3 separate regions of the Homo sapiens genome follow, and all the other regions are linked to region 3. Evidence: fine-mapped expression QTL. A gene starts in region 3. Each other region holds a variant in brackets. All regions are shown on one strand. Distances are between the middles of the regions.

What was found. PIP is the estimated chance that this variant, and not a neighbour inherited with it, causes the effect.
Region 1: its variant is fine-mapped to the expression of SCGB2A1 in thyroid (GTEx, PIP above 0.99).
Region 2: its variant is fine-mapped to the expression of SCGB2A1 in sun-exposed skin (GTEx, PIP 0.95).

What each region holds. Positions count from the first base shown.
Region 1 is chr11:62,122,766-62,130,938 of GRCh38, reverse strand. It overlaps INCENP (inner centromere protein), which reads right to left and starts at 6,928. Exons shown (of 19, transcript NM_001040694.2): 1 at 6,776-6,928; 2 at 2,638-2,788; 3 at 2,056-2,169; 4 at 349-1,157. The coding sequence starts at 2,777. It overlaps LOC124902681 (a long non-coding RNA gene), which reads left to right and starts at 7,228. Exons shown (of 2, transcript XR_007062697.1): 1 at 7,228-7,282. RefSeq lists enhancers at 547-1,048, 2,075-2,574, 6,057-6,638, 6,628-6,697, 7,228-7,317. The variant A/G (reference allele first, on the strand shown) is at 3,311.
Region 2 is chr11:62,242,759-62,250,937 of GRCh38, reverse strand. SCGB1D2 (secretoglobin family 1D member 2) reads right to left here. Exons shown (of 3, transcript NM_006551.4): 2 at 7,462-7,649; 3 at 6,126-6,268. The coding sequence ends at 6,239. Among named protein-coding and RNA genes, the nearest start is that of SCGB1D2, 4.6 kb to the right of the region's middle. The variant T/C (reference allele first, on the strand shown) is at 3,135.
Region 3 is chr11:62,203,827-62,212,005 of GRCh38, reverse strand. SCGB2A1 (secretoglobin family 2A member 1) reads right to left here and starts at 3,333. Exons shown (of 3, transcript NM_002407.3): 1 at 3,220-3,333; 2 at 1,406-1,593. The coding sequence starts at 3,274.

The DNA.
Region 1 (8,173 bases), 81 kb after region 3:
CCGACCTTCCCGAAGCTCAGTTTCCTCACTTGTAAAGCAAGTAGGTTGGGTCAGACCTGCACCATCCAACGTGGAAGCCACTAGCTACATGTAACTATTTAAATCTAAAAGAAGTAGAATGCAATACAATTTAAAATTCAGTTCCTCAATCACACTAGCCACATTTTGAGGACACAATCGCCAGATGAGGCCAGCTAGCGGCCACCATCCCAGGACAGCACAGATGTGTAACATCTACCTCACTGCAGAAAGCTCTCTGGACAGCTCCTTGCTAGATGATCCCTCAGAAAGCCTCCATCTGAGCCTGGCACCAAGGACCACCCGCCACTGCCAAGCCCCCAGACTCACAGATGATGCGGCCAGAGGCAGCTGGCTCTTCGGCAGTCTTCTTGGCAAGCCTTCTGCTCGCCCTGCGGACAACACTTTCCTGTTTGGCCACCAGAGAGTACTTCTGGGCTAAGACTTGGGGACTCGGGGAAGACGGGGCGATCGGGCTGTGCCGCACCGATTGAGAGTCCGTGCGAGAGCCCGTGGGCGTGGAGAAGTTATCCGGCAGGATGGGAGCCAGCACCCGCTCCCGCCATGGAGAATCTGGAAAGGCTGGCGAGTCCCGTGGGCCAGGGGAGACCTGCGCAATCCTGAGCTTAGACGCAGACCGCCCCGTCCCGACCCCTTGACCCTTGGGGTCCTGGGGTGTAGCCATCAGGGAGCTCACTGTGATGGACTCCAGTATCCTGGCCTTCGACTTCTTAGGTGTTGATTCCTCATCTGATGTCGGGATGCCCTGGGAGGTTGGAGCTGTGGCTGAAGCTGGAGTCGGGGACAGAGTGCGGGGCAGAGGCTCGGTGGACATGAGCTGGGTGACATGCTGCTCAGCATTCTGGCGCTCACTGATGCCGATCTCCACCACAGGCACCAGCTGGCACTGGGTGTGGTTATCCTCGGGCTTCTTAGTCAGCATCGTGGGAGACTCAGGGGTGGGTGAAGAAGGTGCAGCCAATGCCATGGTAGCCGCGGCAGCTGCAGCCGCAGCACGGGTCACACGCCGCAGGACGGAGCCGTTCTCCCCGACCACTGTAGCCAGCTTCTCTACACTGTCCTTGCTGCGGAGGCGTCGGGAGCTCAGCTGGCTGCTCCGAGACTTTCTGCGGGATAACCTGGCAGGGGCAGCAGGGCAGAGGCTGAGACGGGCAGCAGGACAGGGTGGCACCCAGTCTCTCCAAGAGCCACCAGCTTGGATAGAGTATGATAAGAGAAGGTGAAGGCAAAAGATCTGGGTTCCAGGCCAGATTCTGCCACCTCTAGCCATGAGGCCCCAGGCCATTCTTGTCTGAGCCGCAGTCTTCCTAACTGTAAATTGGGGATCATGCCACAGTCCGCACAGAACTGGCTAGGAAGATTATATTCATCCAAACCTCCGGCTGACTGAAGTTACACCACACCGAGCCCCTGCTGAAAGCCTTACACACGCTCTGCCTTAATCCAGAGCACGCCCTTGAGAGGCAGAGACCACTATCCCCATTTTAGGGATGAGGAACGGAGGCTCAGAGAGGCAGAAATTCAATTCAAAGCCGTACTGCTCTGCTAAGGGGCAGAGCTGGGGTTCACACCCAAGCCTAACCCCAAGACCCAGCCTCTTTCCCTAGCACTCTGCAGCCCCAATCATTCCTGAGGGGGACTAAAACAAGCATGACAATATGACGGCTGGGACAAGGCACGTGGTCTACACCCCTGGTCACACTCACCTAACAGAAGGATGGCTTCTCTTTCTCATCCCACCTACGGAAATCTTTCCCATTCTCCAGGGCCCAGATCAAACACACCCACCCCCAACACACAGCCACAGATTTGGACTCCAGGGTCTTGGGTCAAGCTATAGTTCCCTGTGGCATCCCAACCCCTCTCAGCATGGCCCACGCAGTACCCGCGGTGGTACCCACCACCCCTCCTACAGGCTGCTACTTCCAAATCAACACCTTCAGAATCAAACTCCCAGATGGCACCAAGCCTCCGCAGAGCCCACTGCTCAGCTCACTCTCCCCCAACCCCTCCTACCTTCTCCTGATGGGATCTCTGTTTTCATCCTGAACATAAGAAATCCGTCTCTTCTTCCGTCGGTTCTTCTGAGAAGGTGTTTTGGGCATCAGCTCTGGCTCTTTGCTGAATTCTCTGTTTGGCACAAGGAGGGTGTCACTCGAGGCTGCCTGGGAACCACTGGTCCCCTCTCCCACCCAGCCTGGCCCCTGCCCATTTCCTGGCAGCGACAGGTCAAGCTGGGGTGTCCAGCACCAAGTGAGCTCTCCAAGGCCATGTGCAAGTCACCTGCGGGCACTCAGGGCTTCCTCCTGGAGACACGGCAGGGAAGCAAGCTCCCAGGCGCACGTCCATTGCCACATACCCTGAGAGGCCCAGCCAGCAACGATGGCGAATAGGCAAGGGACTGGATCTCTCCTGCTGCCTCTTCCCATGACACTAGGTCAGGCCCCCAGCACACTGCACACACAGTATACAGCAGGGAGCCCTGACAGGCTGTCTGTTTTGCCAGGTAGGCGGGGACGAGGGGCTGTTGTGTCCCCAAGACCAAAGCAGCCCAGACAGGCCCTGGTGTTCCCAGCCTCTCACTGTGCCCGTCTTCACCTGGTGAACATGCGCTCGGCCTCCTCTTGGATTTCCTCAAGCCACACCAAGTCCTTATTATCCATGTTGCAGAGAAACTCCATGAGCTTCTGGTCACATAGCTCCAGCAGGTGAATGGGCCCTGGGGCCGTCGTCCCCATGGTGGCTCTGTCTGGTGAAGGCAGGGACAAGAGGCACAAGTTAGGGGCCCAGGGTAGGGGTCTGGGGCTTTCTCCAAGCTGCAATACCCACCTGACCCACAACCACCACAAACACCCAGTGCCCGAACCAGGGCCCCTCTCTGCTCACAGCCACTCCCCAGAGCTGCAGAATTCCAAACACTCATCCCCTAGCCTCATCTCTACAAAGAGAAGCCCTTCTACTCACACTCTTCAAATACCTCCCTGTCCCCACCCCCCCGCCAGCATGACTGTCCCCATAAGTCCACAGTTCCCAACCAATTCTGACATTGACAGTCCTCCTTATAAATGGCCTTTTCTGGGCTTAAGATGACAGGGCACTGCCATCTGTCTTCCTGGCCACCCCAGGGCCCCTCACTCCCTGCCCAAACACAGTCCTGCTCTCGCTCTCCAGTAGGCCCTCATCTTACTACTCATGGTTAAGTGAGGGCTAAGACACAGCCACCCTGCACTACATACAAGCTGACTCCAGACATCAGGCCAAAGAACATCAA[A/G]CCCAACTGCCTCTTTAAGAGGCCAGTGAGCAGAAGAGATTCTGTGTTCCAAAGGAATGAGTGAGAAAGTAGTGATCCAGAGATATGCCCTCAAGGGGCCTCCCACAACCCTCTCCCTTGAGCTGAAATGCCCTCCAAATGGAGCATAAATAGAACAAGAAGGGAACAGTAAGCAATATCTTGCTTTTAAGAAAACTTGCCTACAAGCATTGAGCAAGAGAAAACACAAAAACAGTTTTTTCTCACTTTCTTATAAAACTAGCAGCTCAGGTATCCTCCTTAAAACTTGATAACCAGCCGGGTGCAGTGGTTCACACCCGTAATCCCAGCACTTTGGGAGGCCGAGGCAGGTAGATCACATGAGGTCAGGAGTTCAAAACCAGCCTGGCCAATGTGGTGAAACCCCAACTCTACTAGAAATACAATTAGCTGGTCATGGTGGTGTGCGCCTGTAATCCCAGCTACTTGGGAGGCTGAGCCTGGAGAATCACTTGAACTAAGGAAGTGGAGGTTGCAGTGAGCCAAGATCACACCATTGCACCCCAGCCTGGGCATCGCAGCGAGACTGTCTCAAAAAAAAAAAAACAAAACAAAAAACTTGATAGCCATTACAAAAACTTCAAGCAAGGAAGAAGTACAATCAGCCCTCCATATCTGTGAGTTCCACATCCATGGATGCAATCAACCACCAGTGGAAAATATTTGAAAAAGAGCTGCATCTGTACTGAACATGTATAGACTCTTTTCCCTTGTCATTATTCCCTAATAATACAGTATAACAACTACTTGCATAGCTTTTACATCATATTAGGTGTTATAAATAATATAGAGATATAAAGTATACAGGAGGATGTGTGTAGGTTATATGCAAATACTATGTCATTTTATATCAGGGACTTGAACATCTGTGGATTTTGGTATCCAAAGGAGGTCCTGGAACCAATCCCCTGAGGATTCCAAGAGACAACCATATTCTACTACATCACAACAGGGGCTCATTAAATATCCCAACAGGTGAATGAGTGAAAGAACAAATGAATGGGTGGTGGTCATAAGCCATAACAACAAACTGCATGCCTCAAGTCAATGGCAGTGATCCACCATCCTGACTTACCTCTTTAAAACCAAGAACTGGCCGGGCACGGTGGCTCACGCCTGTAATCCCAGCACTTTAGAAGGCCGAAGTGGGCAGATCACGAGGTCAGGAGTTCAAGACCAGCCTGGCCAACGTGGTGAAACCCAGTCTCTACTAAAGATACAAAAAAATTAGCTGTGTGTGGTGGTGCACGCCTATAATCCCAGCTACTCAGGAGGCTGACGCAGGAGAATCGCTTGAACCTAGGAGGCAGAGGCTGCAATGAGCCAAGATCACACCACTGCACTCCAGCCCAGGCAACAGAGGGAGACTCTATCTCAAAAAAAAAAAAACCATGCACAACTCAGCCTCCCACCTACAATGGAAGGTCTTGTAAGGAAGGGATAAATTGCTGACCCCTTGATCCCTCACAGGGCGTAGCACCAGGTCAGGTTTCAGTCTCATGGGACTTCCTCAGGCTTGATTCAAGGACACAGTAGTCTTTGTTCCTCAACAAGCTCTGCCCTGCGTCTGGAACATTGTCTCACATTTTGTATGGCTCACTCCTCATGGCTTGGATCTCAGATCCTCAGGAAAACCTGAAAACCAATCTAAAGTAGCCCCAGCCATGATCCCATTCATTGATTGTAATTCTCTGCAGAGCACTTGCGTGCTTGTTTACCTGTTGCTTACTGCCTGTCCCTGCCCACTAAACAATTGCTCTCTGAGGGCAAACCCCTGTCTGTCTTGCTCATCGTTGAATGCCCAGAGCACAGCAGTGCCTGGCAACAAGGACTATTTGTTAAATGAATTAATCCACCCATCAACTCTACACCTAGAAATAAACATCCTATAGGTGCTCATCCCACCACACAAAGGGCACCAAATAAACTTAATCTGCACAGGTTAGAACTGACCAACACATGTTCAAAACCCCTGTTCCCAGATGCCAAGGGCAGCAATAATCAGGGCAGGGCCAAATGGGCAGGATCGTACAGGCTTTGGGCTGAAACCTCGGCTCTGCAGCCAGCCAATCATGGGCAAGCCCTTTTCACTGTCATCCCTCACCTTCCCCTAACCCTTCTGCACCCAGACCACAGCCCTGGCAAAGCGCAGGACCTCAGGCCAGAAAAGAGAAAACTGTTTAAGGAAGCCAAAGGTTTGCAGAGAAAAGCAACAACTGGCTAACTTTTTAAAAAGTATTTGTTCAAATGGGCAACGTGGATGAGAGCTTCTTTCACAAAGTCCATGAAAGCAATTGGACTTCTTTCACGGGGAGGTTTGCTTCTAGCAGACCTTAGCGCAACGATTTAAAAAGGGTTACCGTAAGTTAAAACAGAGGTGACCCTGAAAAAGAAGGAATCAGTGTACCAAGAATCAGGCTCCTGGAAGAGCAGCAAAAATCTCTTCTTCAACCCATGTAAGCACCTGCACACAGATAAAGAGCACTCAACACCTCACCGAGGAAGACACTCTCCAGTCTTCCTCCTCTCCAACACTTCTTCCACACCATACACCAGACTGAAGGCCCCATCGTCCTCCTCTATGACTCCTGTCCTTTTCAGGGTGCTGTAAGTTGGGCGCCTACCACACCTCTGTGCAGAAAGCGCATAGCAGCTGCTCCCATTTACTGAGTCATACTCCATGCCCGAGTCAGACATCATCTCATTTAATTCTCACCACAACCTTGAGGATACGCATGGGCAGATGAGGAAATTGAGGCAAAGAGAAGTCAAAATCAGCCGGTAAATCAGGGGCATAAATAGAACCGTGCCCTTAACCACGGGCTATACCGCCTTTAAACCGTGCCCTTAACCACTGGCTATACCGCCTTCTAGATATCAACTTCTGAAAGGCAGGTGCCCAGTCTTGGCTCTGGGCAACCCCGCGAGCAACCCATGTTAGCTGAATGAGACTGAACCGCTGACAGCGAACAGGCTTGGGGAGTGACAAGGGGCGGCCCAGCCTCCGGAAATGGTCAGTTTAAAATGCTGCTCAGCTGGGGGCGGGGGCGTTGAGAGAGGGGTTTAACTGCACAGAAATGCCATCTGGCATCATTCCGCCAAACAACCGGGTTGGTTTCGGGCTTCCTGCGCGTCCAAGTCAACACTAATCCTCACAGGCACAAGGTGCCAAGCAGCCGGGAGCGGAGGGAACGGGGCTATGCTCTAGGAAGCTGAGGGCCTAGGTGGAAAGGGTGGGAGGCATCTCGGGCCCGAGAACCAAGGCAGGCGACCTCGCCACTTGGAAGAGGTGACCCTCATATGCCCAGGTAGCCAGGGGCTGGGGTGGGGAGTCACGACCCTGGTCCGGAGTCGACAGGGACGGAGCAGAGGACCGGGGAAAAAATCGCGAACCACCCCCCAATCCCCACGCCCACGCGCACTCACTCGACTGCGCCACGTCCCCTGAAGGCTGCTCCGATCCAAGTCCGGTGGTATCCCTAGGTAAGGCCCCGCTTGCCCAGACCCACTTGGCTCCGGGCCTTCGGGACTCACCGCACGGGAGGAGCAACCAGGCGGCGCAGCGCGGGCGAAAACTATGATTTTCAAAACTGAAGGCTCAGCCAATCCTCGGCAAGTTTGTCCGGGCGGTTGCAAAATTTTAAGCCAATCAAATAACAGGAAGTACCAGTCAGCCCTCCTATTGGCCATATCCACTAGCAATCTGCGGGACTAAGAGGCGGGGAAAGGAAGCGAAAGACTTTAAGCCCCCTCAGCTTCCGGGTGCTGCGGCCGCGGCCGAGAGAGGAAGTAGATCCCCGCCTGGGAGGAGCCCGCAGACCTGGAACTACGAGTCCCGGCGAGCACTGCGAAGGCCACGCGCGGCTTTCTTTCTTCTCCAAGCACGGTGGCAGTCTTCTGATCTCTGCTGCTTTTTTTTCCTCATAAAAACATGTATGTATATACTTACATTGCTGAAAGACCAGCTTTTTAATGTAACAAATTATCTAGGTACAGAAGTCATAGGTTCCTCTTCCCATGAGAAAAACATTCCTCAAAATACAAACCAAACAGCATCCCAGAGGGAGTAAAATTTCATTGTACTGAAACATATACAAATTAAGGCTACCTTGGTATATAAACAATTTAGAAATTATGATGGAATAGTTCCACCAAATCATTTACGTATAGGAATTCATGCCATTTTTTAAAGAATTGGTAGTGGGGCTCAATTCAAACAATATTATGCATCCTTACATTCAACTTAATACACTTAGCAGCTATAAGGAGTGTAACTGTAACCCCACTTCCTGAAATCTCAGGAGTAATGTTAAAAATCCAAACCCATCAAAGGCCAGGGTGTTACGGTATTTGGCTCATGAATCGAAAAGCCTAATCATTTCAATTTAATCTTTACAAGTAGAACAAGATCCAAACATGGGACGTTTTCTTATTTTTCTTTGCTTTTGTGGTTGTAATGCCCTTTTGGTTTTCTGAGCAAGCTGAATACATCTGATAAATACTACCATTGGACAAAGGATCTAAACATTGAGATGTTTTACTAAATCAAGGTTTCAAGTTGGCACAATGTTTTTACTAAGTCATATTTCAATTAGTTCATCTTTCCAATATGGAGGCGGGGGGGGAAAGACAAGGACTAATATGTCCTATAAAGAATCTCTGGCCGGCGAGATCCCGCCACTGCACTCCAGCCTGGGCGACAGAGCGAGACTCCGTCTCAAAAAAAAAAAAAAAAAAAAAAAAGAATCTCTGGCCGGGCGCGGTGGCTCACGCCTGCAATCCTAGCACTTTGGGAGGCCGAGGCGGGTGGATTGCCTGAGCTCA
Region 2 (8,179 bases), 39 kb before region 3:
AAAGTCTGATCATTAGAAGTATTAGTATAGTTGTATAGCAGAACTGACAAGGTTTCCCACTCCAAAGCAGTGACTTTCAACTAGGACACATCTACTCCCAACTTTCCCCATCCCTGAAGACATTAGTCTGGAGATGTTTTTGGTTGTCACAGCTGTATGGCAGCCCAGATACTATTGGCATCAAGTGGGCAGAGAACAGGGGTGCTGCTGAACCTCCTACAATGCACAAGACAGATCCCACAAGAAAGGATTACTTGCCCTCTATGTCACTACTGCTAAGATTGAGAAACCCTGTGCTAGAGAAATATCTGTGAGCCTTCAAGATGCCAAAAGGAGTGTGGTCATCTTTGTCCTCCAGGGGGCTGGCTCAGCCTTCTGTCCATGCCTTTGCCCAGGCTGCTCCATGCACCTGGAGGCCCTGCTTCCTCTGCTTGCCATCCTCATCTTCTCGGTGCTTCATGGTCCAACTCAGCCATCACCTCTTCTGCAAGCCTTCCTTGATATTTCCTTGAATGTCTGCAGGCTTTTAATTTGTGTAGTAAGATCTCATCTCAGTGATATACATTGTGTCTTTCTTTAGTTCTACGTCCTGTCTTCCCATTCAACTTGCTAATTAATTCTTTAAGGAAATTCATTAATTCTTTCAGCAAAATATACTATCTTCCTCCATGGTACAGTGTGGTGTAGATTCTGCTTTGACCTGAGGCCATTTGCATCTTCTTAACTTCTTTTTGCCAAATTATCTCCTCTCTGCCCACTTTTTTGCCCCTTTTCTTCTATGCTCCCTTTCCTTTTTATTTGTTTTCCAACATCCTTTTTTTTTTACAGTTTTAATTTTTAAAAAGTTGATATAGATGCATGTTTTGAAAAGGAATATAATGCAAAAAAGTGTTTTATTAAAAGTGATTATTCCTTGCCCTTCCTCTGCAGACCTCCCAGTCCCATTCTCACTTTCAGCTTGTTTTCCTGTGGGGGTATTTCCGTGTTCTCAATAATCTTTTCTCGCTGTTCTGTTGATGTATCCAGTAACTCCTATTATAATCCCTGTGTATCCAATCCCACATCTTTGCCTTTCTTGTTCTACTTCTTTTTGGTGGAGCATATCCTACAATAACTTTCTGAAAAGAAGTTCATTGGTGATAAAATGTTTGCAGATTTGCATGCCTGAAAATATCTTTATTTTGTCTTCATGCTTGAATAATTGTAGCCTGGATGTAGATTCACATCTGTGTAGAATTACAGGTTGAAATACTCTGAATTCTGAGTGTTACTGCTCTGCCTTCCTGTTCTTGTGTTGGTTCCATTATTATTCTCCATTCTTGTAAGTGTCTAGCTGTTTCTTCCAAAAAAAAAGTGGGGGGCTTTTATTTAAGATGATGTTCCAAAATATGATCAAAATTGTTTTGGTATGGGAAATCAGTGGATTTCTATAGATTTTTCAATCTTTTTATTCTAGAAAATTACCTAGGTAGTGTGGGCTTTCAGAAGCACTCATGGAACTGTCCAGGACACAAAACATCTGACAGACCCAGAGAGCCTGAACCAATCACAAAAAAGGGCAAGTTAATTCAGAGCTTTCTGATTTCCTTCTCTTTCCTCTTTTCCTAGATTCTAACTCTGTCAGAAACCATGGTTAGTTCATTGGGAGAGAATAGATGGAAGTATAAAGAAAGAAAGAAAACAACATGTATTCTTAAACAATGTGAGGTTGTGATTATTACAAAAACTTGAATATTCTAATTTATGAATTGAGATATTGAGCTTTATTTCATTAAAAGAAAATTGAGATCCATTGAAGATATACTTTAAAGATGCCTATAACAAAACCTAAGCTTTGTTATCAGAATATTGGGCTTATCAGGCCAGGTGTGGTGGCTCACGCCTGTAATCCCAGCACTTTGGGAGGCCGAGGTGGGTGGATCACCTGAATTCAGGAGTTCGAGACCAGCCTGACTAATATGGAGAAACCCCATCTTTACTAAAAAATACAAAATTAGCTGGGCGTGGTGGTGCATGCCTGTAATCCCAGCTACTCGGGAGGCTGAGGCAGGAGAATCGCTTGAACCCAGCCTGGGCAACAAGAGCAAAACCCCGTCTCAAAAAAAAAAAAAAAAAAAGAATATTGGGCTTATCATAAAATGCCAGATGGATCATAGGGACAAGATATTTGAGAAAAAGAGCCTAGGCAGAGATTGATAATATTTGTCCAGGGGGGAAATTATGAGACTCTACTTAGTTCAATGGTCATGGGAGACAGCCTTAAGGGGTAAAAGTCTGGAGACCCTGCATGGGTGAATCCTACATCCTTGGTAAACCTCAATCTCAGGTTTCTGGATTAGATTTTCTTAGAAATTGTGATACCTCCATCAAAGAAGCAATCCAGGAAGTGAATCAATGAGAGCATGGACTTGGAGAGAAGTGCTGACTGTGGGATGCCGACAGGTCTTGGGGGGGGTGTGTCCAGAGGTAAAATACAGGCCCAGCTCCCCTTCACAGGTATCTTCCTGCTGCCTCCCAGACAGCAGCAACCCTTAGAGTGTTTCGTTTTGTTTTGTTTTTTTTTTATTGTGTGTGCTTTTTTTCTTTTTTGTCGGAGTCTTACTCTGTCAGGCTGGAGTGCAGTGGCGCGATCTCGGCTCACTGCAACCTCTGCTTCCTTGGCTCAAGCAATCCTCTTGATTCAGCCTTCCAAGTAGCTGGGACTACAGGTGCACACCACCATACCCAGCTGATTTTTGTATTTTTAGTAGAGACAGGGTTTCACCATGTTGGCCAGGATGGTCTCGATCTCTTGATCTCGTGATCCACCTGCCTCAGCCTCCCAAACCGCTGGGATTACAGGCATGAACCACAATGCCCTGCCCTTTTCAAACCATCTTTAAGTGTATAATTCAGTGGCCTTAAAGGCATTCACAACGTTTCACAATATTCCTTCCCAGAAAATTATTATCATCCCAATCAGGAACTCAATAGCCCTTAAATAATGACTCCTAATGCCCTCCCTCCCTGCCCCAGCCTGTGCAGTCTTACTGAATTTCACGTCACACTCTTTTAATAGCAACTCAGGAAGGAAAACCTTACCACAGATGATCCCTATGTGATTAGCTGTATAATGGTGAAAAGAGTGAGCACTT[T/C]GCAATCTCCAATCTTTAAAAGCGATGAAAGTAGCTAAGGAAAAGGCCTCCAGGTCACAGCCCTGGTGATGCTGGGAGTCCTGTGAGTATCACAAGGGACTCTTGTCCCAGATATTGCCTCCCCAGGTCACTGGATGACTGCACCCATAGAGCTGAAGGCACAAGAACAGGGACTGCAGGAGCTCTACTTTCACAGAGATAGACACATATACACTAGATGGAGCCTGGGCATCACTTGATTTTGACAGCTTCCCAGTGGATTCCAAAACAGAACCAGGGTTGAGGACCACTGGGTAGGGCATTCGTCATTCTCATGTTCATTAGTGGGAACAATCTTGGACCTTCTTGGGCACTACTGATGATGAAGTGAGAGAGAACTTGGAATTCTTCCAACAAAATGCATATCAGGATGATCAATGACTAGAAACTTCTAGTAGTTGTAAGCATTATAATAATGATTGTTATAATTTGTTGAGTGCTTTATAGTATTAATGTATTTAATATGTTCTCACAACAATGCTGTGATATGCATCCTATATAACAGAAAGGTAAACTGATAATAAAAGAGGAATGTCTAGGCATGTGGGTGCACATGTGTATAAAGATAAAATATAAGGTGTGGATATCTGAGAGGGCTTCACAGAGGAGGAGGCATATGAAGTGGATTCTATAGATGAGATTGTCAGATGTCATCGTGAGAGATGGCTATACAGGGAAAGGGAGACCCCTATGCACTTATGCAGGGGTGTGACTCACATGAGGCCCAAAAAATGAGATATAAACAAGTATGGCTGAGCACAGAGTGCCCCAGGGAAGAGGAGAGGAGGAGACAAAGGCTCCCAGAAGCAGGTCTTGAAGGTCCTTGTGTGCAACACAAGGGTGTGGACTCGCTCCTCCAGCAGTGGTTCCTCTCTGGTTTTCTCCCAGTGATGTGAGAGCTCCATAAATCCTTGTATCTGCCACACACAACAGCACGCTATGCCTGCTGATAGTAAGTTTGATATATCTTGGTTCTATTTTTAAGTGTACATAATTTCTGGTGTGATTAAAATACAAATTTCTTTTAAAAGCAATGTTTAATTAATAACAACTGTTATCTACTCTCCTGCCAATTGTGTAATGGTGACTATTATCATAAAAAGATGGGCTTGGGGTAAAAAAATAATTTCCCTTACTTGAAAGCCTTGAGAACCAGTGCCCTCTGGTCATTTAGAGTTGTTGAAAAGAGAATAGGATCACATTTTAAATTTAGGAGACTTACCCTGGCATGAATGAGGAGGATGTATAGTAAGAAGAGTTCATAGAGGCTGCAAGACAATGTAGAAGAATTTGGTCAGAGCTGGGGAGGACATAGACCAGACTGTGATATGACTGTGTGATGGGAAAGAAGGAACTCGTAAAGGTGATTCTGGGGCAATGGAGGGAATAGAACATAGTGCACTGTTAGGAGTCAGGAGGGAGGGGAGCTGTCATTGGCTGCCTCATGTCCACCCTGAAAGATACCCACATCCTAGTTCCTGAAATCTGTGAATGTTCCATTATATGACAAAAAAAGCACTTGGCAGACACGATCAAACATAATGAGATGGGGTGTTATTCTGAATAATCTGCAGGGTCCCAAAACCAAACCTGTGTATTTTGTGATTAAAAGTCAGGGTGGTGGCTCACGTCTGTAATCCCAGCACTTTGGGAGGCCGAGGTGGGTGGATCACGAGGTCAGGAGATCAAGACCATCCTGGCTAACACGGTGAAACCCCATCTCTACTAAAAATACAAAAAATTAGCCGAGCATGGTGGCGGGCGCCTGTAGTCCCAGCTACTCGGGAGGCTGAGGCAGGAGAACAGCGTGAACCCGGGAGGTGGAGCTTGCAGTGAGCCGAAATGGTGCCACTGCACTCCAGCCTGGGCGACAGAGCGAGACTCCTTCTCAAAAAAAAAAAAAAAAAAAAGCCAAGGTGGGTGGGGTTGATGTAGAAAGAAAAGAAGGGAACATATCATGGAGGCAGAGGTTGGAGTGATGTGGCCACAGGACCAGGACAATTATTAGCCCAGAAGCCAGAAGCAACCCTTAGTGAATTCCCCCCAAGAGTCCCCAGAGGGAGCGGAGCCCTGCTGCCCCCTAACGTCTTCACAGTGATACTAATGTTGGACTTCTGACCCCCAGAGATGCCTGAGAATCAGTCGTTTTAAGCCATGAAGTTTGCAGATTTTTGTTCCAGTAGTCACAGGACACCAAGCAGGGAAACTGTGGTGTCTCTCTGTGTCCTGGTCAGGGTGCTTGCTGGGTGGGTGCCTTAGCCTGGATGGGCTCATGGAAGGGAGAGCAGGCTGGGGGCAGACCCTGTGCTCAGTTTTACATCCTGCTCCTGAAATGACTGTGGAGTGCGCACTGGGAGCTGTCCAGTTGTCAGGGGGTGCTGGTCTCTGGAGCTCTTGGGAGAGCTTGAGGAAGGAAGCATTCACCTCAGGTGCTGGTGAGTGATGCAGACGCTGAGGAGTGCTCTGAGCGTGGGGAGTAAAACAATGTGAACTCCAGGTTGAAACCTAAAGAGGACCCCAAATTGTGATAAGTGGAAAATGAAGTATACTGGACATGACGGAGGACAGAAAGCATAGTGCAGAGAGAGCACCAAGCAGGCTGACTGTGGGTCTGAGGGGACATCAGAGTAAAGTCACTGATAGGTGGGAACCCTCGGCCTGGATACCCATTCAGGCTGGGGGTTCTCTCAGTGTAAGACCAGTGGAACATTTCAATTCCTGTGTCCTTGTTACCATGGTTTTTATTCACGGCTGCAAGATGGGAAATCTGTAAGGAATGCAGGATAATTCCTACCAAATATTCTCCTCTGTGACACCTGGACTCAGGCCCCATTAGTAACAGGATGCTGGTTCTCTGGAGTTAATTATCACCCACAGCAAAAGGCCACTCCACTATGGAAACCACCCTGTACTCAAGGCTCGAGACTGCAGGATTATAACAAGACCAGTGGAGACGTGGAGAGCAAGTGATTTATTAAAGCAAGACGTTGAAACCTTTACATTCTGCAGTGAAGATCAGGGTGTCATTGAAAGACAGTGGAAACCAGGATGAAAGTTTTTACATGTCACACACTACATTTCTTCAATATTTTCACCTAAAATAGGAAAAGAAAAAAGAAGGTGGGGTCAGTCATGCTGCTGCTGGAGGTGACAGGCTCACATCCAAGAGGCCAGTGGGATTCTGCCCCCAAAGGCAATTGGAAGGGCAGAGGCAACAACTCAGTTTGGGAAACTGAGGCCTAGACCTGGTGGCCTCACAGCACCCATGCCGGTGATGGAGCAGCCTTTTCTTGCCAGGCCAATAGCCCTGGGGTGATCCGGGAATGAGGCCCAGGATCCTCATGGAAGCAAGTGACGAGGGTTGGAGAGAGCAGCAAGAGGTTATTGCCTGGGCTGTCCCAGGGCTTGGAGTCTCCTGGTTCCTGCAGTGAGGGACCCAGGACTGAGAGGCTGGTCAGGGCTGAGAGGGCTTCTGGGAAGCTTGGCTTCCAGGAGACTCCAGCCTCCCCATGTGGGAATTCTGCCTCAGGGCCCGAGCACCTCTCAGTCCCGAGCCTGCAGCTTCCATGAGCATTTGCAGCTAAACCTCAGGACAGCAACTCAGAGGCAGCCAGGCAGAGAGGCCCCTGGAAAACCTCTGATTTCTTGAGAAAGACAGAGTGAGAACATCCCGCTTCCATGGCACTGCAGGAGGTAGACTAGCTAGGGTCTTGGACGACTGGCCATGGTCAGGAGAGTGTCGTGGGTGTGGAGGGGAGTATGGGGTCTCAGGAGCTGGGAGGGGCTCCTTCCTGGCTCTGCAGAAGCTGCAGAGAAGTCCAGCCTGCCAGTGCTACATCTGCAGGAGCCCCTGCTCTATGTCCCTCCCTGCCTTCCTCTCCCTGTTCAAGGCTCCCATGCTCCCCAGGACATTCCACAGTGACTGTGTCCATTACATGAGGGCAGTTTGGTCTCAGGAAAGCTCCCAGCAGCGAGGCGGCCATGCTTGGCCCTTTACCATTTCTGCCTGGGCCCAGGCTCACTCCCCATGTCCTCAGCACACTCTGGGGACATGGCATCCAGGCAGGTGACATGAGAAGGAGGAACATGCAGGAGGCTGTGTGCAGCTGAGTTGAATTCTGCAGGTGAAATGGTGGCACCCACCCTGTGGCCCCAGGTGACCTTCTCAAGAGGTGACCAGCAAGGCAGCTGCCCCACCACCTGTGTCCCCAACAGAGCAGCAAGCTGACCTCACTTCATACTGTGCAGCTGACCAGAAGCCTTAACAAATAAAGGAGAAAGAAGTTACCAGGACTTCCGCAATGAGGCTTCGTTTCTGAAGGGACATCTGATCCGTGCATCTCTTCACTCCTAACTTGGCTGCAACAGCTTCCGGAGGGGCATCAAATTTGGCAAGACTTAACTTGAACAGAGGTTCACTAATGAAGAAGAAGTCTAACAGCTCAGAAACAAGAGCTGGGCAGAACTCGGCATTGGCTGCAGCAAAAGAATAAAAATATAGTTGATGTTAGGAAAGTCGATTTTTCTCTTTGGCTCCCTGACGTTAGACCAGACAGGATCCCCTGGGTTATATGTTCACATACATTTGTTGTGCTGATGACAATGCCAGACCCTTCAGGTGTGACTTCCTCAAGCTCTCACAATAAAGGAAAGCACTTCATATCAACAGCCAAACTCTTTTTTTTCCCTTTGTCACCCAGGCTGGAATTCAGTAGCTCAATCATGGCTCACTGCAGCCTCTACCTCCTGGGCTCAAGCGATATCCCCATCTCAGCCCCCTAAGTAGCTGAGACTACTGGTGCATGTCACCACGTCCAGCTGATTTTTCATATTTCTTTTGGTAAAGCTGGAGTTTCGCCACGTTGCCTAGGCCGGACTCAAACTCCTGAGCTCAAGCAATTCACTCTCCTTGACCTTCCAAAGTGCTAGGATTACAGGCATGAGCCGCCATGCTTAGCCCACAGCTAGACTCTTTTGACAGTATTAATCTTTCTTACTCCATTCTC
Region 3 (8,179 bases):
GATTGTAGTGAGCCGAGATCGTGCCATTGCACTCCAGCCTGAGCAACAAGAGCTAAACTCCATCTCGAAAAAAACGAAAAACAAAAAACAAAACTCGTAACCAACACATCTTTATAAACAGACAGAAATACTCCTTGTTATAACCACTGACTTTTGTTTTAAACAATTCTAGCACTCGTGCTGTTTCATACCCATAATCTGCACTTCCCACTTCATGAGGCACTTAATTAAGTGGTGCATGACTTCCAGTCATGTATGCTAACAAATCTTGGTTGCTTGGACTTGCATTTTAAATTCTTTATTTTAGGCCGGGAGCAGTGGCTCACACCTGTAATCCCAGCACTTTGGGAGGCCGAGGCGGGCAGATCACCTGAGGTCAGGAGTTCAAGACCAGCCTGGCCAACATGGTAAAATCTCATCTCTACTAAAAATACAAAAATTAGCTGGGCATGGTGGTACATGCCTGTAGTCCCAGCTACCTGAGAGTCTGAGGCACAAGAATTGCTTGATCCCAGGAGGCAGAGGTTGCAGTGAACGAAGATCATGCCACTGCACTCCAGCCTGGGCAACAGAGTGAAACTCCATCTCAAAAAAATTTTTTTCTTTATTTTAGAAAATGCAGAATTTGCACAAATTGTATTTTCTGAGCTAGATAAAAAAAAATAAGAATGTTTTGAATATTTGTTTTTGTGAAAGTAGGAAATTTCTTAGTAGATTGCTCCTACAAGTGTGTGATCTCTTGAGAACCAGATATTTTCTCTTGATAAAAATGTGCATGTTCTGGCTGGGTGCGGGGGCTCAGACCTGTAATCTCAGAACTCTGGGAGGCCAAGGGAGGCAGATCACTTGAGGTTAGGAGTTTGAGACCAGCCTGGCCAACATGGTGAAACTCCTTCTCTAGTTAAAATACAAAAATTAGCCCGGCGTGGTGGCGCACACCTGTAATCCCAACTACTCGGGAGGTGGAGGCAGGCAAATCTCTTGAACCCGGGAGGTGGAGGTTGCAGTGAGCCGAGATTCACGCCACTACACTCCAGCCTGAGTGACAGAGCGAAACTCCGTCTCAAAAAAAAAAAAAAAAATGCCGATGCCTGTCCCCGTGTGTCTGTGTGTGTCTATACTTGTGTGCTTATGTGTGTCTGTGTCTGTGTGAGAAGGGACTGGTGAGGTCAGAGGTAGACGGGTGATCTCTAAGGCTTTCTTTTCTCCTTTTTGCCTTTTCCATTTATCACTCCCTAAAGATTCTCAATGTGAAGTGGCAAAGCAGCCTGGAGACAAAGTTTAATGAATTGATATATAAAGAAAGTTTGTTCACCAGTTGCTTGGCATTCTTGGTGCCAAATTTAGAGCCCGCTGGTTCTGATCAGTGATTTTCAAAGGGTACATAAGAAGAAACCCAAATTACCATCATCAGTCCAAAGTTTTTCAGAGTTCTATGTGACTGGTTGAGGAAACACTGCTTGAATTTCCCCATAGCCTCTGCAGCGGCATCACTGTCTATGAACTCTTGAAGAAGCTCTTTGTATTCAGGTATAGATATGTCGGAATTGATGGTCTTTTCAACCATGTCCTCCAGGAGTTTGCAGCCAGAATCTGGAAAAAAAAAAAAAAAAAAAAAAGACACAAGAACATGGGCCATTACTAGAGGTGTGATTCATTCTACAGATGAATTGGGAAGCTGGCTATCTTCGTACCTCCAGGGACAGACCGAGGTTCAGAAAGATTTTGGTGCAGTATGCAGAGTTCTCAATTCTGGGAGTGTAAACTCAGGCTCTGCAAATTCTCTCTGACCTTCCAAACCCAGAGAAGCCCAACCCTGTGTATTCTTGGTGAAGAGGACCCTCGAGAAATGAGGTGTTCTGACTGGGGGGACATAGCAAACACTACTTGGACTTTCTTGGTTCAAAGTCATGCAATGCTTCCCTGTTATCATGCCCAGCATCAGGTAGGGTTTCCAAGGATTTCAGATGAATGGGTCTAGGACATTGTCCATTAGTTCTGTTGACTCTACTGCAATAAAAGGGAATGTGTGGCCAGGTATGGTGGCTCACGCCTGTAATCCCAGCACTTAGGGAGGCCAAGGCAGGCGAATTGCTTGAGCTCAGGAGTTTAAGACCAGCCTGGACAACACAGGGAGACCTCATCTCTACAAAAAATTTAAAAATTAGCCAGGCATAGTGGTGTCCACCTGTAGTCCCAGCTACTCGGGAGGCTGAGGCAGGAGCATTACTTGAGCCTTCGAGGAAGAGGTTGCAGTGAGCTGAGACTGTGCCATTGCACACCAGTCCCAGTCCCAGCCTGGGTGACAGAGCAAGACCCTGTCTCAAACACACACACACACACACACACACACACACACACACACACACATGAATGTGAAATAGAGCTTGTTCATGAGGGGATCTGAGGTCACCTCCCACTGTAAGGGAGAGGAACGAGCTCAGGACGTGGCTTCATGTGAGCTGGTTGTGCTCTGGACTTTGTGATTTTCCAGTTAGTTGACTGTGAGCTTGTCACCCTTCTACACATCTGCACCTACCTTGGATGCCAATACGGTAGGGTTTGGAATCCACCTTTGTGAACTGCACAAGGCAGGCTACCTATGGAAATATTAGCGCTGATTCCAGCAGCCGGGGCTTTTTCCTCCCACTGAATCTTTAGTGCTGGAAGGAGACTCCAGGGGTTGTGAGTTCTCACCTGTCTGCCTTGAGCCTGAAGCAACTGGGAGGGTAAGGGCATCCCAGAAGGACCCAGATCAACTCTGAGAACACAGAGTGAGCCACACAGGGTGAGAGACACTGGGTCACACTCTGCAGCCTGGGCCTTCTGTCCTGGGAGGTTTCCTATTTCGTTCCATATTCAAGGAGACCCATGATTATTTCCTGATTTCTAGGTGTAGATGCCATCTCTCCCTTGCCCCACTGAAATAGTTCATTTCAATATTTAATCCTGAGACTCATCCTGGTTTCTATGGTCACCGTGACCATGGTGAGACGCTGAGTGCCATGATACACTGTGTGCAGCTCCAATGCAGGGGACAGCCCATGAGGACACTGCATGCTTGATTGTCAGGAACTCATGGGGATCCTAAGGCCTATCGCACCCAGGCCCTTCACACTGGGGCTCGTCTGTGCTGGGGATTAGAGGTTGGGAGTTCTTCTACAGGGGCCCAGGTGACAATTCCTAGCCCAGAAGCAGCCCTCTCTGCCCAGAACTCACCTGCATAGCAGTGCAGGAGGAGGGCCGCCAGCATGAGGACCATCAGCAGCTTCATGGCGAGGCGGCTGCTGTCTGTGTTCAGTCGTGCGTGGCAGGGATCAAGGAAGTTGCTGTGGAGGTGAGTACCCAGCCCTGCTCTATTTATTCCCCAGGGAGGCACCTTAGTCCCTCCCAGGAATGAGGCAATGTGTCAACCTGGCATGGGACCAGGACACAATAGTGTACACCAATGGGAACACAGCCAGCCTGTGCTCTGTTTGTAGAAACCAAGAAGGCAGTAATATTTGGATCCCTGACAATCTGGGGACTACAATAATGATACATGGCTTTTAGTAAAATGGATGTGACAGTGTTTTCCAAAATATAAAGCAAAACCCAGTGGCGTGATCTTGTGGTCTCAACAATGTTGTTATTATTGTAGTTTTCTTCTAGTCCTCCTTCCCTTCTTCCTCCTCCTCCTTCTATTCTTTTTCTTCTATTCCTCTTGGTCTCCTCCTCTTCTCGTTATTCTTCAAGGTACAAACAGTTTCATAACTTGTGTATCTGCCGGTCCTGGAATCATCAAATATTTGGGCTATGTGCAATACCTGCATCTTCCTATGGGAGGCAGACCTTCCTAATCCATAGACATTTCTTTTTCAGAAAAGCGGGTTTTTTTGTTTTTGTTTTTTGGGGTTTTGTTGCTGTTGTTGTTGTTGTTTTGAGACAGAGTCTCACTCTATTGCCCAGGCTGGAGTGCAGTGGTGCGATCTTGGCTCACTGCAGCCTCCGCCTCCCGGGTTCCAGAAATTCTCCTGCCTCAGCCTCCTGGGTAGCTGGGATTACAGGCATGCGCCAGGACACCTGGCTAATTTTTGTATTTTTAGTAGAGACAGGGTTTCACCATTTTGGCCAGGCTGGTCTCGAACTTCTGACCTCAGGAGATCCACCTCACTCAGCCTCCCAAAGTGCTGGGATTACAGGCGTGAGCCACCATGCCCAGCCCCGAAAAGTGCTTTAAGTTTTGGGGAAAACATTAATATCTAACCTCTACTGAAAGCTTCTTGTTATTCTTGTTAAGAATTACAACACTAAGTTAATTCAACTTTACAAATTTATTTTACAATATATTTATAATTTAATTTGTGCTTAGTTCTTTGTTAGCCTTTTACGGTTTTCTATCCACTGACTGAGAGGATGCTGTGAGTGAGTGGAGTAACTGACTGCTTGGGCAGGCAGTGCTAGGCAGTGGGTGGCAATGGGGTTGGGTGATGATGAGATTTAGGTGATAAGATTTGGGCAGGTGTGGGTGTGGATCCTGGAGGCCACACGTACTCATGCTGTGTCTTTGGGCAAATTACAATGCTGGTCCCTCTGGGCTTCCTTTCTGTCTTTGTGAAACGGGTATAAGTGATGCTGAATTTTTTTTTTTTTCGAGACAGAGTCTTGCCCTGTTGCCCAGGCTGGAGTTCAGTGGCACGATCTTGGCTCACTGCAACCTCCGCCTCCCGAGTTCAAGCGATTCTCCTGCCTCAACCTTCTGAGTAGCTGGGATTACAGGCATGTGGCACGAGGCCCGGCTAATTTTCGTATTTTTAGTAGAGACGGAGTTTCTCCATGTTGGCCAGGCTGGTCTCGAACTCCTGACCTCAGGTGATCCACCCACCTCGGCCTCCCAAAGTGCTGAGATTACAGGTGTGAGCCACCGTGCCCGCCTGGCCGTGAATTTTTGTAAAGATGAGAGATACTCTGTAAATTTTTTTTTTTGAGATGGAGTCTCACTCTTATTGCCCAGGCTGGAGTGCAGTGGCGTGATCTCAACTCACTGCAACCTCAGCCTTCCCGGGTTCAAGCGATTATCCTGCCTCAGTCTCCTGAGTAGCTGGGATTACAGGTGTGCACCACCACGCCCAGCTAATTTTTATTTATTTATTTATTTATTTATTTATTTATTTATTTATTTATTTTGTATTTTTAGTAGAGATGGGGGTTTCACCATGTTGGCCAGGCTGGTCTCAAACTCCTGACCTCGTGATCCACCCACCTTGGCCTCCCAAAGTGCTGGGATTATAGGTTTGAGCCACCGCTCCCGGCCGACGCTCTGTAAATTTTTAATCACGCAGCCAAGCATGAGATAATTCTGAATAAATGGCAGTTGCATTCATGCGTGGATCCCTTGTTGTACGCATCACTGTTTTGCTTCTCCTGTGAGCTGGGCCTTGCACTAGATTCAGTTATAGAAACAGGTTAGACCAGGTGCTTGCTCCTGTGGACCTTATTTTCTAATGAAGGACACAAAGAACAAGACTAAAGATATATCAGAGGTATGAGAAAGTGGTCATTGCTGCAAAGAACAACAAAATATTCACAACAGCTGAATGCTGTCATAGATGGCCTGCCCAGGGGCAGTGGCCTGTAAGCCCCCCAAGGCAGCCTGTAGGAGCAGGTGCTGTTTCAGCTGAGACTTGGATGAGTGGATGGTGATGTCCAAGGACACATCTGGGGAAGAGAATTCCAGGGAGAGGGAACTGCAAGTACAGAAGCTTGAGGACAGATGGCACTGGCAAGGTAAGGAAGGGAAGGAACGTGGCCACATAGAATCAGGAAAAGGACGGGACAGCCTCACATGATAGAAAGCCCATCCCTGTTTAATTAGGGGCACAGTGAAGGTCATAGGAACAAGAAAAACAAAGTTGGCTCAGGTAAAAAAAGAAAAAAGAAAAAAAAAGAAGTCGATGAAACAGCCAGAGGAATGAATCCATTGTTAATTCCCTGTGAATGCATTGTTTTCTCTCTGGATTACTTGCGACATGTTTCTTTCCACCATTCAGGTGGAGCCTCAGTGGCCAAGAACAAACCTAATTTTGGGGAGGACAGAAAGGAGAAGTGTTGTTTACTTACCACTGTACACAGCTGACCCTGGCTGGTGGCCTTGTTTCCCAAGGGTAGTGAAGGACCTTGATTATGAAATGTGAGAGTGTCTCCTTGGCCAGTACTTATTGGGGCTCTGCCTGGTGCCCCAGTCCTTGTGGCCCTGCCTTGTCAGTCACCTTCTTACACAGAACAGAACTTCAGGAAAGGCCTCTGGTCTTGGAGCCATCTTTGTTGGCAGCAATATGCCTGTTGTTCAAGTCACCAAGGCCTCGTCTAGACCCAGCGCCTCCCTCGCGCCCGAGCCTCATGCTGGGATTCCAAGTCTGAGTTGCTCAGTGTTCAATCCACCCCAGCACCCCCATATTCCAGCTCAGTGTCCCAAAATGTGTCAGAAGCTTGCAAAGACTGACCTCCCCCTGCGTAGGGGTGAATACATCTGGTGACACGGGGTTGGGATTGAGTGAAGGGAACAGGGTGAATCCTCTAAAGAGACCACAAGCATCAGAAACGCTTTCTGGCCTCTCCTTTCTGAAATGGGGCTGAGGAAAGGAGAGGCTGTAGCTTCCATGGGGAGTCTACAGCAACCAAGGAAGAACCCCCTTCCCCTTACACACACACCCAAGATGCACGTGACGGTGGTGCGTTTTTCATACTCACTCAATTGTCAGAAGAGACCTGTGACCCTCTGTACCTCTGAGAGGCCTGGGGAGACACACACAGGAGACTATAAGCCCGGACGGGAAAGGAGAGGTGCAGAGAGAGATGGATGAAGGGCTCTGGAAGGCCAAAGGAGGGAAAGGGTGCTTTCCCTTAAGTGGGAGAAACGTCCTCTGGCTCAGAGGTTGAGGGGAGGCTGTGGGTAGGGAGAGGTAGGTTAAAGATGGATAAATTCAGAAGATGCCGGAGGTGACTCCCAGAGGAGTCAGATGATTGAAAAGTAAGGAAAGGATAAAATCCCTTATTCCATGGGGCAGTCCCATCCCAGCTGGACATTCCCAAGACTCCCAGGAAGGATCTGGGAAGGGAGGGCCTGAGAAGCTGCAGCTCTGCTGAGCGCCGCTGTGTTGCACTGCTGGGTCCCATCTCTGCAGGTTCTGCAGCCCTTTCTCGTAAGGGTTGGATGGCAGGTGGGTGGTGAGTGAGGACTCGGAGCCTGACCACCACTTGTGTTCACATCACAGCTCCTCCGTTTGCTGACTGCCACATTGGACAGGAGACTTAATGCTGTGTGTTCCCTTTAAAATGGGAACAGTCATAGAATTGCTGTGATTCACAAGTAAAAAGTGGAAAGTCCTGAGAACAGTGCTTGGCACAAAGCAGGTGCTATCCAGATGTCAGCTGGTAGCCATTATTTTTGAATAATAAAAAAATGTATTTATGGTAAACTCCAAGGACCACTAGGACTGTTCGACACTACTGAAACTCGGCTTCCACATAATATTCTCTAAAATATTTGAGTAACTATTCAGATATAAGCTAAAACTTTTAAGTTTGAAAACAAAGTTCTGTGTTTTGATCCATGTGTATTTGATTTTTTTTCAGCGTTCCCCTTTCCTCAGAGGTTTTTTGGTTTTATGATTTTTTTTTTTTTTTGGAACAGGGTCTTGCTCTGTCGCCCCAGCTGGAGTGCAGTGGTGCCATCTTGGCTCACTGCACCCTCTGCCTCCTGAGTTCAAGCGATCCTCCTGCCTCAGCCTTTCCAGTAGCCGAGATTACAGGCGCACACCACCACGCCCAGCTATATTTTTGTATTTTTGGTAGAGACAGAGTTTCGCCATGTTGCTCAGGCTGGTCTCGAACTCCTGGGGTCAAGTGATCCGCCCACCTTGGCCTCCCAAAGTGCTGGGATTATAGGCATGAACTACCACGACTAGCCTCAGAGTTTTATTGAAATAATTTACAAATAACTTATCACCCAAGCATCTTCTACTTAGTATTACCATATTAATCTTCCCAGAAACCAGTTCCAATTTATTGAACATGTTTACATACATTTTTTAATTTTTTACCCAGCTTTACTAAGGTAAATTGACAAATAAAAATTATATTTATTTATGGTTTATATGTTTTGATGTATATATGCATTCTGAAATGATTAATTCAAGCT